Regions from separate parts of the Homo sapiens genome. Here all the other regions are linked to region 3. The links come from fine-mapping of genetic effects on gene expression. A gene starts in region 3. Each other region holds a variant in brackets. All regions are shown on one strand. Distances are between the middles of the regions.

Region 1 (6,581 bases), 150 kb before region 3:
TGATCACTTACTATGCATTTAAGGTTTTTCCATGTCTTTTCATGGCCTTGATAGCTCATATCTTTTTTGCACTGAATAATATTCTTACTGATATTTTTAAGATCCTTTTTGTCGTTGCATAGACTAGTTTCTAGAATTCTTGTCTGTTCCATTTGCTTTTCCTGGCCCTGTACTACTACTATTAACCAGGGAAGCTGTTAAATAGCTTTAGTGTGTGATAAGTAAAGTATCTTTCATTATTTTTTAGAATATTCTTTGTTATTCTCATATGTTTACTCTTCCAGATGAACTTACTTTTTTTCTTTCTTTCCTTCCTTCCTTTCTTTGTTTTGTTTCTTTCTATTCTTTCTTTCGCTCCTTGTGGAGCAAAGTTAACCCATAAGCAGTGCATCCAGAGTAGCCCAGATGAACTTTAAAATAATATTGCCAAGTCATTAAAAATCCTGTTATGATTTTGGTAACGATTACATTAAATTGTGTCAATATGAGAGTAATAAGTGTTTTACAATATTTAGTTCACTGTAAAACTTACTTCAGATACAAAATTCAGATGTAGAGCTAAACAAAGTAAAAGATATGATTCCTTCTTCATTCTTTCTTTTCCCTTTTCCCACCCATCAGGTTTGATGGCTGTCCACATCAAGGATGAGGGTTTGTCTTATTCATTTACTTAGTAAGGGGCCTAAGAAGAGTGGAGAGAGATTAGAGGCTTGATGAGTTGAAATCAGGAAACTTGCATCTAGGATTTTCTAATGAGGTTCCTCCAAATTCTCTGTAAATAGTTACGCAAATATTTAAAAAGACAAACTGTCAATAACCCAAACACTAGCTTCAAACAGAATAATACAATGTCAAACTATAGAGGACTAAACCCTAATTTTATGAAAGCTATATATCTCAAATTGAGGAAAATCTAGCCAAGTTTTGATTATGACAAACCTTATCTTCACTTACAGAAAAGGAGTTGGCTTTTCTTACAATTTGTCCTCACACTTTGAGATCCCTGTAGGTCCCAATTAGAAAAAGTGGCAGCGTTCCAAGGGATGGGCAGGGGGTTCAGATGTTCCTCATAGACAAGGAGTGACACTCCAGGTGGATCACTCCATTATTCCTTTGCTTGGGACTGTGGACACACATTCTTCTTAGACCATAGGGTCACTCTCAGGGTGTGCTTAACTTATTGCTGTCAGATGTATCTGCCATAGAGAGGGTAAGGGAGGCAGGATGAAGGTCTGCTTTTTTTGTCTGTTTACAGCGGGGGCAGCGGGGACAGGGTCTCGCTCTGTCACCTAGGTGGGAGTGCAGTGGTATGATCTCAGGTCACTGCAACCTCTACCTCCTGGGTTCAAGTGATTCTTGTGCCTCAGCCTCCCGAATAGCCGGGATCACAGGCGTGTGTCACCATGCCCAGCTAATTTGTGTAGTTTTAGTAGAGACAGGGTTTCGCCATGTTGGCCAGGCTGGTCTTGAACTACTGGCCTCAAGTGATCCTACTTATCCTCCCAAATGCTGGGATTACAGGCATGAGCTACCACACCCAGTCCCATTTTACTCTTAACTGTCACTTACAGACTGTAGATTCCAGCGTGATTTAGAGAAATGTAAAGGGAAATGGAAATAGAACTTTAAAAGGAGAATTATATCTTTCAAATTATTGTCAAATATAAAAGGCTATTAAAACCATATGAAAGTCAGTATGCTGCAAAAGCCAGATTACCAAGCAAAGCCATCAAGCATTAAAGGAAACAAAGAAGAACCAAAAAAATAGAAAGTACAAAATGATATGGCAGGGGTAAGATCAATTATTAGTTAAAACATTAAATAGAAATTGGAAATACTTCACTAAAATTAGATTTTTTGAACAATTCAACCTGATCATTACTAGAGGGACACATAATATAAAATATACAGGAAGTTTAAATGGGAAGGATGGACAAAGTTTATTTAATCACTTGCAAGCAGAAAGGGAAGAGATGATATCAGATAAAGCAAAACAAAAAGTGTTAAAAGGAATGAAAAGGGTCATTTTTATAATGATCAAGACTAAATGTATAACTATTACAGACTCTTTTGTGATAAATCTCATTGTTCCAAAATATACTGAGTACAACCTAAACGTCCCAAAAGAAGAATGGTTAAATGTATTGTGGTATATCTGTGTGGTAGTCTTATTTGTAATGGTTAAGAATGGTATTGTTGAAGTTTCTTTGTTTATCAAAAAAGCCATTAGTGATATATTGTTGATCAAAAAACCATACTGCAGATAGTGTGAATATTATGCTTCTACTTTGATTAAAGTAGAACCAAAAATGTTAACAAGGGTTATCTCTCAGTGATGTAACTGGAGTCAATTTAAATATTTTCAACTGTACTTTTAATCTTTTCCTATAGTTTATATAGTAAATTATCATTATACCCAAATATCTACTGCCTCGCCTACTGGGAGAACTATAGTTTCATGCATCATTGACTCACCTAGGCCATGTGACTCGTTTTGGCCAATAAAACGTGAGTGAGCTAACCTGTACCACCTACAAGCAAAAGCTCTAAGAACCATCCCATGGTTCTGCAATGGCTCTTTGCCCTGCCTCTCCTGGGGGCTGTTTGTTAAGCCTGGAATGAAGAGCACTCAAGGTAGGTCTGCAGCTGACCTAAAGGACATGTAAATGAGCTAAAAATAAACCTTTCTTGTAAGCCTCTTGGAAGCAGAGAGACGGGGCCCTAACCTACTGGTGCCTTGATTTATCAGCCTTCAGGACTGTGAGAAAGACATTTGGGGCTTGGTTGTGACTCATTGCAACTTAGCCCAGGGCAAGTGGTCCCCAATCTTAAGTGTTTTTCTGGACACATACAATTTATGATGCCTTTGAACAGCAAGTTCT[A/T]GAAGTCTTCCCTACCAGCTTTTGCTTTAATTAGGTCCCTGGGTCATAAATCTGAGATTTATGCCACTCAATGAAAATGCAAATGTTACAGCACTTAGCAATACTTGTAGTGTTCCCACTGTTACAAAGGAAGAATGAGACAGAAAAATTAGATGTTCAGCTCTCTCATATTGCTGTTATTTTCAGTCACAATACGTTTCTCATTGAGTATAGTAATTATGTTGGTGTTGTGTTGACTTTAAAATTTATGGCCTTTCTTTGGTTTAGAATATTGTTTAGGCAATTTCTGAAAATGTTCTTTCGTAGAGATGACTTTTTTTTATGTTATAGCAGTTCCTACACTCTAAAGAATAACCTTCTCTCAGAGTTTAGACTTACTTTTATAATGCATTTGAAAAAGAGCAGGTGGTCAAACACTTGATTGAAAATTGGTTGGAATAATCTTTAAAGGGCATCTCATTCAACTTTATATTAAGTACTTGAAACCCTTTCTGTTAAAAAAAATAACAAAAATTAATAGAAACAACAACAATAACCTCAAAAACAATTCTTGGAATGAATTAAGTTCTCTTACTTTTTCTTCATTTTGCTATTATTCAACATATTTAAACTGTAGTTCAACTGAAATGTTGCCCTTTTATCATAAACAAGTTATCCTGAAAATGCCATTTTAAATTAAAACAAAAATCAAGGTGTTAGCATTGATGTTAATGAAAAAAGTACAGTTTTTTAAATGAAAAAATCCAGCAGAGGAAATATACCTTGGATTGAATTTACTTCCAAATGGATTTCAGTTTAATGAGTTAGGTTGTTACAACCTCATCCCTTGGAAGCACTTGAACGCATCACAAAAGTACCTCCTTTTTGGCTCAAGAGTCAGTATCTACTTGTAAAACATCTGGGACCAGAAAACTAAGTACTTCAAATCAAGGATCCGAGCAGTGTCTGTGCATTCTGTTTGCTGGCACCACAGCTTGGAATCAGAAACTTCACTCACTTATTAGAATGCCTTCATAAAACAAAAAGATTAGATGATCATCTGTCAAGTGGAGGTTTATTACTACCTTTTGCCAATAATGAATGAAACTATCTCTAGCTCACAGAAGAGATATACAGCGCTTTCCATTTCTGTTTGTCCAAAGGCTAGTTTTGTTTCAAGAGAAAGTCTCCCAGTTTGGAGGGAAAGTAGCTTTCATTTTTCCTGCGGTGACAGTGAAGTTGAAATTTTAAGACTGGATTACAAGTTCTATTCACTAGAATGTCCAGTTTTCACAGTTTACAAAAATTCCCCCTGTAATTATTGGGATTGTTCTTTTAGGTATTCTCTATAAACAGGTGACCATTAAAATCCTGAATAACACATTCAGGGTGACATAATCCATTATTAAAAATATAACTATAGGACCATATAAAATTTCATTTACTGGCACATATGAAATTTACATGATCTTAAAGGATCTGATTAATATATCTGTATCATTACCATAGTCTATTAAACATTTACATCTCCAGCCTAGATTTCCCTGAGCTCCAGACCTACATTTCCAAGAGTTTGTCTCCAACTGAATGTCTTCAGCAATGTCTCTAACCACAGTCATGACTTTCCCATGGATCTTGGATTTCCTTTGACCATTTCTTGCTCAGAATGCCAGAGACCTGAGATTTAGCCTCAACCCTGCCTCCCCGACCATGTCCAGTCACAGGACACAGGACTCAATGTTGGAATTTCTGCCAGCACTCTCCCATCCTCTCCTGAGTCCTGATTGGGCCCTCCTCATCTTCTTTACTTCCCCACTTGGAGTCTCCCCACAGCTGCCAAAATCACCCTTTAGTAACACAAATCTGGTTACGTCTCGATGGCTTCTCATGCTTATGATAAAAATCAAAATGCCAATGTCTTAGTCCACTTGTGCTTCTATAACAGAATACCCAAGACTGGGTAAGTTATAAAGAACATAAATTTCTTTCTCACAGTTCCGAAGGCTGGGAAATCAAGGCACCAGCAGGTTAGGGCCCTGTCTCTCTGCTCCCAAGAGGCACTTCAAATGCTGCATCCTCTGGAGAGGAGGAACCTCATGTCGTCATATGGCAGGAAAGCAGAAGAGAGAGAACCCACTCCCACAAGCTGTATCAGTCAATTCTCATGCTGCTAATAAAGACATACCCAAGAGCACCTAATTTATAAAGGAAAGAGGTTTAATTGACTCACGGTTCTGCATGGCTGGGGAGGCCTTAGGAAACTTATAATCATGGCAGAAGGGGAAGCAAACACTTCCTTCTTCACATGTCAGCAGCGAGGAGAAATGCCAAACAAAAGAGGAGAAAGCCCCTTACAAAACCATCAGGTCTGACCTCTCATGAGGACAGGATGAGGGTAACCGCCCCCAAGATCAAATTACTTCTCATCTGGTTCCTCCCATGACATATGGGGATTATGGGAACTACAATTCAGGATGAGATGTGGGTGGGAACACAACCAAACCATATCACAAGCTGTTTATATAGTGGCACTAACCTAGTCACAAGGGCTCCACCCTCATGACCTAAACACCTCCCATTAGGCCTCACTTCCCAATACTGTTGCGTTGGGGTTAGGTTTCTAACACATGAATTTTGGTGCACATATTCAGACCATAGCAACTGTCATGGCCTACAAGGTCCTGCAGGGACTGGTCTCTGCATTTCTTTGACCACCATATCGCCATATCTCTGACTCTAGTCATATTGGCTACCACTCATCTGTTGATCATGTCACGCCAGACACCCTGGTACTTAGTAAACCGCTCATTCTTTGGACCTCAGCTCTAACTCCCAGATCCATTAGTTCACCTCAGTCACTGTCTTCATAATGCCCATATATCTCCATCTTTTTTTGTTTATCTGATTCAGTGTCTCACCCTCTGGACTGAAGTTCAGGTCTCACTTTTTTGTGGCCTAAAAATTGATTTCTGTTTCCTGCTAGCAGCTTTCCTTCCCAGCCTGTGCTAACAAGCCTACACAAGTGTTCTGGTGTTCTGTACTTCCTCCAAGAAGATATTAGCATTAAGATGGGGGCTAGAATGTGACCTTCTTCTTGTAAGAGGATAAAGTTCACTTTAATTGTCTATCTTTTGGGAAATATCATTTTTTAAGCTTTTAATGTTATACCATAGTGCTTACCTTTTAACATTTTTTAGCATAGCTGTGTTGGAGACAAGGCCAATTTAAGAGCTTCTCTCTGACACAAGCTTTAACCTTAATACTAACAATGCAAACCTTCCTTACATGAATCCAAGTAAAAAAATTGAAGTGGCTGTTGGCTGTGCATAAGTGAAGGAACTCCATTTACCCCTGCTCTAAGATAACCTGTCAATCTGTAGATGTTTGCGAGCATGTTGGTTGTTGAGAGTCACATGTAGGCATGCTGTAGTTTTGAGGTACAAATAAATGTGGATATATGTATTCCTGGATCCTTCACAAATGCTGGATCACAGGATGCACACAATGTGTTAACTCTTTTGTAACTGACTACTTTGTGTTGGATTAACCGTCACATACATGACATAGCTAAACTAAACTGAAGACAAACATGGACCGAGCTCTTATTCTAGTCCATTGGGTAGGAGAGATTACGTTTCCGGAGGAGAATCTGGCGTCTTTAGCATCAGGGTCTCAAATATAGCGTTATAATCTGCTTTAAAACAAAGAAAATGCAAGAGG
Region 2 (6,335 bases), 340 kb before region 3:
AGATTGGAATTATGTAGCTAGAGGTCATAACTAGAATTTCACCCATAAAAAGGAATGAAAAGCATCACAAGAAGTGTTGATTGCCATAAAAAATTATTAGACTTAGTTTCTCAGTACCACCTGTTGTATTCCAGGTTGTTTGTTGTAATTTTGTTGTTGTTGTTGTTAAATATACATTTCCAGTGGGGGGGGAAGGAATGAAGTACTGATACATGCTACAATTTAGATGGGCCTTGAAAACATTATGCTAAGTGAAAGAAGTCAGACACAAAGGGTCACATATTATATGATTCCTTTTATATGATCCAATAGGCAAATCCAAAGAGACAGAATGCAGATTAGTGGTTGCCAGGGAATAGGGTTAAGGGGGAATGCAGAGTGATTACCTAATGGATGCAGTTGTTCTGGAGTGATAAAAAAGTTTTGAAAATAGGGAAAGGCGGTGATTTTACAGCATTATGAATGCACTAAATGCTACGGAATTGTACACTTTAAAATGTCTAATTATGTTATATAAATTTCACTTCAATAAAAATAATAAAAAGAAATAAAAAATAAAATAAAATCCTTTTCAAATAGTAGTGACTTGAAATGCCAACCTATAAGATATGCTAGGCCCCAAGAAAAGTTTCAAATAGAGTTATACCCTATTTTGAAAAAAGGTGATATATATATATAATCTCAAAAAAGCTGATATATATATATAAAACCATATATATATTTAACAGGATTATCATATTATAATTTCCATTCTTAGACAGATAGATAGATAGATAGATGTACACATATAAATCTCCATATGATTAATCCAGGAATGACAAATTGCTTTGCAAAGATAGTGTAGTCTTTTCCAACCACTTCGATCTTAACCCTAAGATACTGTCTCACTTTACCCTCTTCCCACAAACAAAAAAACATGCTGAATATACGCTTCAAACTATATAGTATTTCTCCCACTCTGCTAAAATCAATACTACAAATAGAATCACTACTGCCATTATACCACTAAAATATGATTTTTTAAAAATCTAGCTTATACTTTTTCAAGAAAAATGTATTACCTAAAATCAAATACCCTGTATAGGCAAAAACCTATGCCATACAAGATTCTTAATTCTTCTGATTAAAAGGATGATCAGTTATCCAAATGCAGGTCTTATGATATAAATCCATATTTCAGTAATATGTAAAGAGTGGTCCATTTTTAACGCTGCAAATTAGGAAATTATTATAATGCCAAATCATATGCTTTATTCTTTCCTACAGTGTATCTGGTTCTCTCCCACAACTGCTAGTTTTTACCTTTGTTTTTGTTTGCCTCTGTATAAGAAAATCCTGGTGCTTTTCCTGTTTTTCAGCCAAAGAGGCCCCAGAGATTTGGACCAGTCTTGTGATTTTCACCTTTTTCCACTGTGTGGCACTGAGCACATTTCTGAATAAAGGTCTTCTTGCCTGCTTCAGCATCTCCCATGTTGCTCTGCAATGGAACATTAAAACCACAAACCAAAAAAATATATATATTAGATTTTCAAAGCCGGGGAGAAAAAAGAATTCCATCATTTTGACTGAAGTGAATGCTGATGATGTTAAACAAAAACATATCCTTTAAAGCATGCAAGCTTTAATGTATGAGTGCTCAAAAACACAGATATATTATAACATCCAATTTCATAAAGACAATCATCTCATTAATTAGGCTTATTTTAAGTTTCTAGCCATAGCTACTTCAGAAACTGCTATTGGTATCAAACGGGTTTTACTTCAGCCTTCAAAGAATTATATTAATTTATCCAGGTCAATTATATTCCTTTTCATTTCTAAAAAGTGCATGTGCAAAAGATGATGTAAAACATATAGGTCTAATTTTGCAACCCCTTATTTAAAAATAAGAATAGAACAAATAGGAAAGGTGTTTAACTATGATATTACTATGAGTATTTATATGTCTACAATAATCAAACTGTAAAAATAAAAATTATACAGAAAAGAATGCAGCCATAGAAACCTGTATGTAACATAATTTCTCATTTACTTTACATTCTTAGCTATAGATACCAGATTAGATCAAGCATTATCTGAAAGCAATCAGAAATAACATTATTGAATTCAGTCAGCAATAGTATGCATTTAATACTAATGTAGTGGAAAATACACAGTTTTAAGTAGTAAAGACCCTACTGGGTTGGGTGCGGTGGCTCATGTCTGTAATCCCAGCACTTTGGGAGGCCAAGGCGGGCAAATCACAAGGTCAGGAGTTCGAGATCAGCCCGGCCAAGATGGTGAAACCCCATCTCTACTAAAAATACAAAAATTAGCCGGGTGTGGTGGCGGACGCCTGTAATCCCAGCTACTCGGGAGGTTGAAGCAGAGAATTGCTTGAACCTGGGAGGCGGAGGTTGCAGTAAGCTGAGATTGCGCCACTGCACTCCAGCCTGGGTGACAGAGAGAGACTCCCTCTCAAAAAACAAAAACAAAAACAAAAACCTTACTGTATGATGGTAGACATATAAAATAAATTTTTTACAAAGATATTTTGGTTGAGACTGTTAAAAATTCTATAACTAAATAAATGCCTCCTCCATCTAAAATGATGTAAAAATTAAAATAAGTTCAAACTATCAAAAAATTGTACTTTATCGATGTCTCAGGAGGTTCTCCATGGTGGTACAGGATGGCATAATGAAGGCCCTGAATGTGGAACCTGATGGCATAGGTCTCACCTGCAGCCTGGCACCCA[A/G]TATCACCTCACAGCTCTGAGCCCCTGGGCCAGATCACTTCCTCCACCCCTCCCTATCTCACCTGCCCAGCCAACTGGGACCTTGGCCAGATTTCTGCAATAAACACTTGCGGTTTCTGTCCAAAAAAAAAAAAGTGTACTTTAATATAGTAAGGAATATGCTGTCTGGGTTCTATTTTTCTGTTTTTGTGTTCTGTGAAGAATGAGTGCAAGGGAGATGGGGTTTGGGATGGATTTGAACACAAAGAATTACTACTACAGACATCATGAAAATACCAAATTCTTTGAGAGTAGAGTCCTAAGCACATATTGATCTATCAATAGAAACAGAAAACGTTTGTGTTATTCTGCCAATATTGAAGAAACCTATTGTTTAACTACAATTCATAAATTGTTTAACATACTGTGGTTAAACAATCTGTATTCTTCAATATTGGCAGAATAACACAAACATTCTTAGTTACTGCTCCAAGAAAGGCCAATGCTTTATACACAACAACCTGCAAAACCAGCTCTCCCTAACTTCTTTAAATCTATGTGGAAACCCATAACAGTGTCAACAATCCAAGTAAAGGGAAGATAGTTTTCTTTAGGCAGTATCCAAAAACAACTAAGCTATTAACCAATAGTTCAGGTTTCATGGAAAGCCGGGTAAGAAAACTTACTTTATCCAAGAGAAGCTTACTTTAAAACTTCAAACATCACTCAGAGTACTGCATTCAATTATCAGTTCTATTAATTACCTAAATAGGTTCAGAATTCAGTGAGCCTTTGAGCACAGACCATAGAGGATAAAACTTCACTCACAAAAGCACATTTTTGGCCTTTTCACAAAATACATTCACCATAACCATAAAGCTTGTATCATAAAAAAGTCATCTAAGCACTAACTAGATAATCTTTATTTCCAATTTTTATACAAAGCAGAAAAATCAGATTGAGGCTGGGCATGGTAGCTCACACCTGTAATCCCAGCACTTTGGGAGGCCGAGGTGGTTGGATCACCTGAGGTCAGGAGTTCGAGACCAGCCTGGCCAACATGGTGAAACCTTGTCTCTACTAAAAATACAAAAATTAGCCGGGTGTGGTGGTGCATGCCTGTAGTCCCACCTACTCAGGAGGCTGAGGTGAGAGAATCACTTGAACCCGGGAAGCGAAGGTTGCAGTGAGCCGAGATCGTGTCACTGCACTCCAGCCTGGGCGACAAAGCAAGACTCTCTCAAAAAAAAAAAAAAAAAAAAGGAAAAGAAAAATCATATTGATTTTTATACTAAGTAAATGTTGCTAGTAATTCAGGAAACCAGACATTTAAAAACAAACAAAAAACTGTCCTTACTCATAAACTACAGATTTCACATTAAAGTCACGTGTAACATATTTCCATTATAACTGTTAAAACTACCAGCATTAATCACAATTAAAACGTTTACTTCTGCCCTCTCTAATCATAGACGAATACTGCCAGTGCAAATACCTATGACCCTCTTCCAAGTGCATTAAAACCAACAGATTCAGTAATAGCAGGAAGGGAAGAGCAGGATAGCAAGGGATAGAATATCTTAAGAAGGACAGGAAGAATATGAAAAGAATTCATTTTGTCCTATAATCATTTGGCACTCTATCAGCATTTCATATTTCAAAAGAAATATCTCACTGAAATAGGCAAAGATGTGGCATCTAGTATGAAAATGGTCATTCTTCCAAGAATGAAGTAATTTCAACATTAAATAGAGTAACAGTAGCAAACATTTGTATGTGCTTAGTATGTGACAGGCATATTCTAAGCACTTTATATATTATTAACTCATTTAGTTCTCACAACAGCCCTGTAAGATGGATACCATTAACATCTCTATTTTTATAGATGTAGAAAACGAGGCAAACAGAAATTAAGTGACTTGTTTACGGTCACAGATTGGTGAGCAGTGGAGAAGAATTAATATTCAATCTATAATCTTATAGGTTTAACAATTCCTTTTTTTTTCTTTTTTTTTTTTTTTTTTGAGACGGAGTCTCACTCTGTCGCCCAGGCCGGAGTGCCGTGGTGTGATCTCGGCTCACTGCAACCTCCGCTTCCCGGGTTCAAGTGATTCTCCTGCCTCAGCCTCCTGAGTAGCTAGGATTACAGGCATGCACCACTATGCCTGGATAATTTTTGTATTTTTAGTAGAGACGGGGTTTCACCATGTTGGTCAGGCTGGTCTTGAACTCCTGACCTCGTGATCCGCCTGCCACGGCTTCCCAAAATGCTGGGATTAGAGGCGTAAGCCACCATGCCAAGCCAACAATTACTTTTTAAGGGTGACTTGGCAACCCTGTGTTGAACACAATATCTGTAACACTGCAGATGCTTACAACTTTTTACCCAACTGAGAGTGCTTAAAGAGGAATAGGTGGGTACATACCATTGCTATGTCTTATTTTTCATAAAAAGAGAAATGCTAATGAAACACTTTTTAATATTGGCATTAAAAACGGCCAGCGGTTCCTCCCTTTGCCCCCGCTCCCAGCAGTCACCTGGAACAGCCACCTGGCCAGAGTCCACGCCTCAACTTCGAGGCTGGCGATCCAGAAAGAGCACCTCACGCCCTGGGCTGCAAGCGCAGCCGGACGCGCGCGACCAGTGATCGCCAGCCAATGGCAAGCCGGGACCCGGTCCCACTGCTGATTGGCCCCCAGATCCCGTGGGATCTCACCTCTCGCAGAGGCTTAAAGCCTTGTACTTGCTGTGCAGTGCTTGGCTCTGCGTGCCCGCTGTCCAGTAGCTGTGGATAGCTCTTGAGCTGTCGGAAACTGGCTAATTCAACTGAAGAAATGAATTTTTAATTATTTTCATTATAATTCATTTTAATTTTAGGTAATTTTAAGTAATTTTAATTTAAATAGCCACAGTCACCAGATGCTTTAATGAAACTATTCTAAGTGGTATCTATGAATTTTGTCCTGTGATCTACACATTTAAAAGATGTATGTCATCAAGTTGAATCAAAAGGAGCAGGCATACTGTGAAAAAAAAAATCAGGTGTTAGATATTATTCTCAAACTCAAAGGCATGCAAACTCAAGAAGGAGACTACCATTTCTTGAGTGCCTGCCACAGGTCAGACTAAGTAATTGCCTACGTTATCAGTAGACAGTAGCCTTACAGATGGGTCAAATGGAAACTCTGGATCATATTCATATACAACAATCTGAAAGCTACTAATTGATCACCAATAAGTCTTAGTTTTAAAACCTATAAAAAATTTGCAAATAGGGCGAAATATTTTTAGTTAATTGATGTAACATATGAAGACTAATATCACCAACTAAGTAAGCCTCATTGTACTTCAGTTTGGAAAATAATGACAAAAATTTACTATTTGCTCCTGGCATTTCAAAAATTAGTCACAATATCACCTCTCATTTTTAAAAAGAAAAGATTTGAGGGAGAAAAAGTTTCAAAAAAATCTGAATTTCATGTGAAACAAACATGTGTGCACATTCTAATAACAGTGCTTTATAGGCTACATGTTCTAAAGCCTTGAAAAAAATTTAATCTGCAAATGCCCAGCACCTGGTTTCTTCTATTAAGCAGACTAACTAAAAATCATTCTTTT
Region 3 (5,683 bases):
TACATGGTTATATACTGTAATAAAATATTCACCATGTGAAAAAATTTTAAAAAATAACTTTTTAAAGTTCTATATAATTCTATGCATACCTGCATAAAAATCCTTATTTCTACATTATATATGTTTATTATATAACATGGTAATAAAGTAGACCGTGTCACACCTCTGAAGAAATGCAGATTAGTATTTTACTCTTCCTTTATTCCTGGAGGGGAAATTCTTCTGCAGCAAGAAGTTTCTTTTAAAGGAACCATTTACAGCAGAATTGTTTGATAGCAAAATGTGCATAATTTTATTCTGACAGCCTGTCCTATAACGTATCAAACTGCTTTGCTAGGCTGAGCAGTCATGATTATGTGTTGGGTACAACAGGAAAGAGTTTTATGGAATAAGGTGACAGCTTGTTATGTATCTTCTGGACGGTCTGTATCTTCTGCATGGGTAGCTAAGTTGGGACTGGGGATAAGACTGATGTCTAATTTCAGTAAGCAATCACAATGGCAAATGATAAATTCCATCTTTTTCCTTTTAAGTTCAAACTCCCATACCCTCATGGAATAAGTTTCAAGTGTGGCCTTCAAGTGTGGCCCTCAAGTGTAAGAAGACACAGAAACCATATATTTATCTGCTAACACAGGTATTAGGGATATAGCATACAGGGTCCCTGCCCTCAAGAGCCAACAGAGTAGTGTGGGATTTTTGTCTGTTAATAGGCACCTGAAGTATGGAATGGGATATGTTACAACAAGCCTAAGTGCAGGCTGTAGCGGAGGTTGCAGTGAGCCAAGATCATGCCACTGCACTCTAGCCTGGGTGACAGAGTGAGACCCTGTCTCAAAAAAAAAAGAATGAACACTGGTTGTAATGTGACAAAAGGACATCACAAGACTAGAAGGTAAACGTGTAGCTACAAGACTGCAGCTACAATCCAAGTGAGAGATGATGGTGGCCTAGGCAGTAGCAATGGCCAGAAGAGAGAAGCCGACAGATTCAATGGATAGTTAGTGGATTATTAAACGCCAATGGATAGAGTTTAATAACAGACTGGACAAGAGGGAGAAAGACGGGAAGTAGTTAGGAAGACAAAAGCCTACATTTCTACTGAACTAGGTGATTGTGGAGCCTTTACATAGAAAGGGAATGCAAGAAGAATGGGTTTGAGGGAAAAGATGGATTCAGTTTGGGACAATGAGAGGCTTGAGGGGCCTCTGTGTCATCCAGGCAAAGATGCTCAGCAAGCACAGACTGATACACTATTCTGTAACTGGGCTTGGGATGTAGACAGACATTTCAGAATATTAGTCTTTAGACAGTATCAGAAGCCATGGAGGCAGATAAGCTTGCACAGGAAGCCATGGTAGTGTGAGAAGAGGGCGTAGGCAGAACGGTTGCCATAGGTTGTTAATTTGGGGTCTAAAACACATTGAGAGGGAAAAACCCTCCCTTTTCTTGAATTCTTCCTATCTAGAAATAGACTAGCTAAAGTAAGTAATGCAGTGTTGACTCTATGGTTCCCATGGGGACCCTTCCGGCCAGCACCTACAATCTAACTGCCTCACACAAAAAGTTTTAAACTTTTCTTAAAGTGGCATCAATTAAAATAAAAGACTCCAAACTTCCAGGGACACAAACAAATGCTGTCTTCAGATTTTCCAGATGGTAGAACTTGAGCCTTCCTACTAAATTTTTTTCTTGGCATTCTTCCAAATTAAATTTAGCATCCAATGTTTTCTGTGTTTGCAATTAAATAGATACATAAGAAAAATAATGTCCACATTTACAAATGAGCAACTTTAGTTATCATTTGCTCAAGCTCACAGACCAAAAGAAAGCATGAACTTTAAAATTTCATTGCTTTGTGACTTCATTGCTATACGCATGTTACTTATAATCTCTCTGAACCTGTTTCTTCTTGTTTAAAAAGTGGATAATATACAAAATATCTGTTCAGTTTCAAAAACTAGAAGTTATTATGTAATATATGAGGACCTTCTCCCCTTCCTCATTTTGTTTGGATACAGAATCAAAAGTAGCACAATGGACCTAAAGTGCCAAATGAGTCCATACAGAGAGGAGAGACGCTCAGAAAATTCTGGGGTCATGCCTCCTGGCATCCGCTATAATCTATGAAACTTCACAGTACCTACTGACCCAGCTATGACTGCTCCAAGAACCTTTCCTGCTTCCCTCTAATTCTAAGAAGAACCCTAGGAGGATCCTAGGGTATGAGAAGAGCCATGCAGGATCCAGCCATCCGGCTGGGTAACTTTTTAGTTTCTAAGCTTCCTTGGTATGTGGGGAAGAGAAAATTAGGAAGAGAATCAGATGCAGCTGAAAAGCCCTAACGACCTGAGATGAGAGGTCTCAGTTTCAGAGCCTGTTCCTCACAGCTGTCTGGCAAAAAGAGAACTTTTCCGAACTGAAAAGCAACACCAAGTATTGACTGCCAACCCACTCGGTCATCCAGGTTAACTGTGTATACAGACCTGTGCAGGTTATGTCACCAACGGTTACTCTGAAGGTGAAAGTGGGCACGTGTATTTGCACATCAGATCTTTCACATTCATAAACTGGGATGTTCTTGGTCTTCATGCCGTATTCGTGTAATACCTGAATCGGTGTTTTCCCTGGCTTAGCTGTTATCATCTTCCCCAAACTGCAAAAACCACAAAAAGGTGTGCTTTGCATGCCAAATTGGAGATTGAAGCAGAAGCGTAGAGGCCAGTTTTAACCGCCACCGACGGTGACGAGGGAGGCGCCGAGTTCCCCGGAGGCCAGGGCCAGAGCTGGCGAGGCTGGGGCGCACCTGTCTTCCGGCCCCGCTGCGGCAGTCACTCCGCAGGAGCAGGCGGGGTGAGCGAGGTCTTTAGAGAGAGCACTTGAATGCGGGTAGGAGAGATTCTCAACAGAACAGGGCTGGCAGCAGCGCCGCAGCCTCTCAGGGAAAACCTGACGATCCCTTCCCGGGCGCGCCGACCGAGCGTCACCTCCGCCCGCCCCGCGCGCCGCCAGGGACCACGAGAGGGGCGGGGCCCGGCCGCAGACCCCAACCCTCGCCGCCGAGAGGGCGGGGCCGAGCACCCACAGCCGCGGAGGCGTGGGCGCCGGGCACGGCTTTACCCAGAATGCCTCTGGAGGGCCGGCTCCCCGCGCCCCGGCCCTGCCGCCCAACGCTCCCGGCCCTGGGGCCCTGACTGCCCGCACGCTGACCTGAAGGTCCCACTGTCCTCGCGCTCCAGCGGCGGGGCCTCGGCGCGGTGCCTGCTCTGGGACATGGCGAGAAGGGACGGCTCAGCGGCTGGAGGAAGAGCGGTGCGGAGCGACGTGCTCGCTCCCCGGGTCGCTGGTCCCCGGGAGGAGCTCCAGCGCCGCCACCTCCTCCGACTCCCCCGCCTCCTGCTTGCGTTGCTCCAGCGAGGGGGCAGGCAGGGTGGGGGCGGAGCCTTGGTGCCGTAGCTCCGGCTACGCCCCCTCGCTGCTCCTCTGCGGGCCTCCGTCCCGGCCCAACTCCGCCCCTGTCCCTTCCAGGGTCCGCCCCCTTCCCGCCCGGCTCCGCCCCGCTCCCGCGTGGGCACAGGCATTGGGCTCCCGGGGGTTCTCCGCGCCCGCCCCTGCCGGCCCTGACCAGCCTGTAGTAACTGGCCCCTAGGCCGCAGTTCTTTGTCCTTAGCAGGAGGCCGTTTCTTGCCGGGAGAGAGGGATTAGAGGGATTGTCCGGCGTGGGTCTAGGGTCGTTGAGGCCTAAAGTTAAGCCTTTGTGGGGAGGACGGATTGGGGGCTGGGTCACTTTAAGAAAAAGATTCTAAAATTACGAAGGCAGAATTCCAGGGAGTCTCCCGGGCCTGGTCCTGAAGCTTGAGACCCCGGATATATACGCTCCAGGGGGCTGCGGTGCGCTCTTCGGGTCCCCGAGCCCTGTGTTTAGGAACACGCGGGGACGTCCAAACACCCGCTCCTCTCCCGCCGGGCGGGCTCCTTTGTCTTCTGGGCTTTCGTCGCGAGATGGAACGCTGGGTCAGTGCATCCCAGCAAAACACGTTAGGAGTAAACGAAGGCCTTTCCGGGGACCTGGGTAGTCGGTTGTAATGGCGTTTGCCTGGGATGCAGCACCTTTGGTGGGCCATTAGATGACGTGTCGCTTCTCCAGGGGCTTGCTAGGCACTAGCAGAAATGCTCCCCTGTGCTTACTCGGTGTTATGGAAGATTGCTTGCACAATGCTATTCGTACGAAAGGATATTATTAAAAGTGATTTATGGGCGGGCGCGGTGGCTCACGCCTGTAATCCCAGCACTTTAGGAGGCCGAGGCTGGCGGATCGCCTGAAGTAAGCAGTTCGAGACCAGCCTGGCCAACATGGTGAAACCCTGTCTCTACTAAAAATACAAAAATTAGCCGGGCGTGGTGGCATGCGCCTGTAATCCCAGCTACTCGGGAGGCTAAAGCAGGAGAATCGCTTGAACCCGGGAGGCAAATGTTGCAGTGAGCCGAGATCGCGCCACTGCACTCCAGCCTGGGCGACAGAGTCAGACTCCCTCTCAAAAAAAAAAAAAAAAAAAAAAGCGATTTGTTGTTTTGTTAGCATGTAAGCCCTGGATGCTTGAAACAAGTGAAAGATGTTCAGAATCTAATCAAATTATATCATCTGATGCTTTAATTAGAGCCTATTCTCTCTTCCTCTCCGTCTATATATGTATGTATATAGATTACTATCCATCACTGTTTTAATGGATATCTTATTGGAAGGGCTACATAGTCAGTATTTCACAATATATGAACTCCGCATAACACCTATGGCAAAACATTTCAGCACTCAGGTAAAATTCATTTTTTGCCACAAAATTACTTAAAAACAGGCCAGAACTTTATATAGCTCTTGTTAAAGGTTAAGTAGCTGGGATAATAATGAAACAAAAAGATGCAGCAGGACTCCATTTCAAAGAGAGAGAGTCTGTGTGCCCAACTTCAGAGTAAGAAACCACTAGGTAATAGTTTATATAGTTACTTATATGTAATGTGGCTTTATTTTTTAAATAAAGATTTGCATATAATTGTTTATATCTGTGAATTTATATTTAATATTAAACACAGTTTTGTAAGCATATAAGATGGAAAATGAATGAAATGCTCAATCAATGAGCTGTATGCCATGAGGATTCAAAACAGCACTTTGGTGTTGCCAAAATTCCGGTGGTGGACTTGTGAAGGAATTCCCTTTGGACTAGGTCCACTGTAGATTGTATCCGGGACTATCGTTAGTGCCTAAATTGCATTGCTTCCCACAGCACTATATGCTTCCCTTAAAATTGGCCCATTGCCAGTGGCAAATCACTATCTACTGTGATCCTTATCATAGACATTGGTCATATTTTTACGTTATTAGTTTTCTGTGTATATTTTAGTGCTATAGCCTGCCATTCCAAGTTAAACATGCTCTTAGCATATCATTTTACACCGTTGATCTATAATTCATTACCTGAGCACATGAGCAGAGGCAGGGAATTATACAGTGGTAAACTACTTGGTGAAACCATGCTTTGTATTTTTAAGATGTATAATTATATTTAAAAACAAGCAATGCTTAATTTTGTGCCTGATTTTCCTCTTTAAAAATGGATTTATCTGGGGGTTGCAGTTGATGACGTTTTGATTTTAATATGTTTGCTGCTGCTACCAAGAGCTTTGT

What was found. PIP is the estimated chance that this variant, and not a neighbour inherited with it, causes the effect. A credible set is the group of variants that fine-mapping cannot tell apart.
Region 1: its variant is the best candidate, but not a certain one, in a credible set for the expression of PRKRA in whole blood (TOPMed, PIP 0.61).
Region 2: its variant is the best candidate, but not a certain one, in a credible set for the expression of PRKRA in whole blood (INTERVAL, PIP 0.58).

Annotation. Positions count from the first base shown.
Region 1 is chr2:178,299,213-178,305,793 of GRCh38, forward strand. All of the region lies in intron 2 of OSBPL6 (oxysterol binding protein like 6), which reads left to right. Among named protein-coding and RNA genes, the nearest start is that of OSBPL6, 110 kb to the left of the region's middle. The variant A/T (reference allele first, on the strand shown) is at 2,883.
Region 2 is chr2:178,103,000-178,109,334 of GRCh38, forward strand. It overlaps a transcript of PDE11A not described here and the pseudogene CYCTP. Among named protein-coding and RNA genes, the nearest start is that of RBM45, 6.3 kb to the right of the region's middle. The variant A/G (reference allele first, on the strand shown) is at 2,738.
Region 3 is chr2:178,447,756-178,453,438 of GRCh38, forward strand. PRKRA (protein activator of interferon induced protein kinase EIF2AK2) reads right to left here and starts at 3,420. Exons shown (of 8, transcript NM_003690.5): 1 at 3,211-3,420; 2 at 2,487-2,656. The coding sequence starts at 3,275. It overlaps PJVK (pejvakin), which reads left to right and starts at 3,623. Exons shown (of 7, transcript NM_001042702.5): 1 at 3,623-4,014; 2 at 5,633-5,683. The coding sequence starts at 5,655. RefSeq lists an enhancer at 2,576-3,150 and a silencer at 2,913-3,692.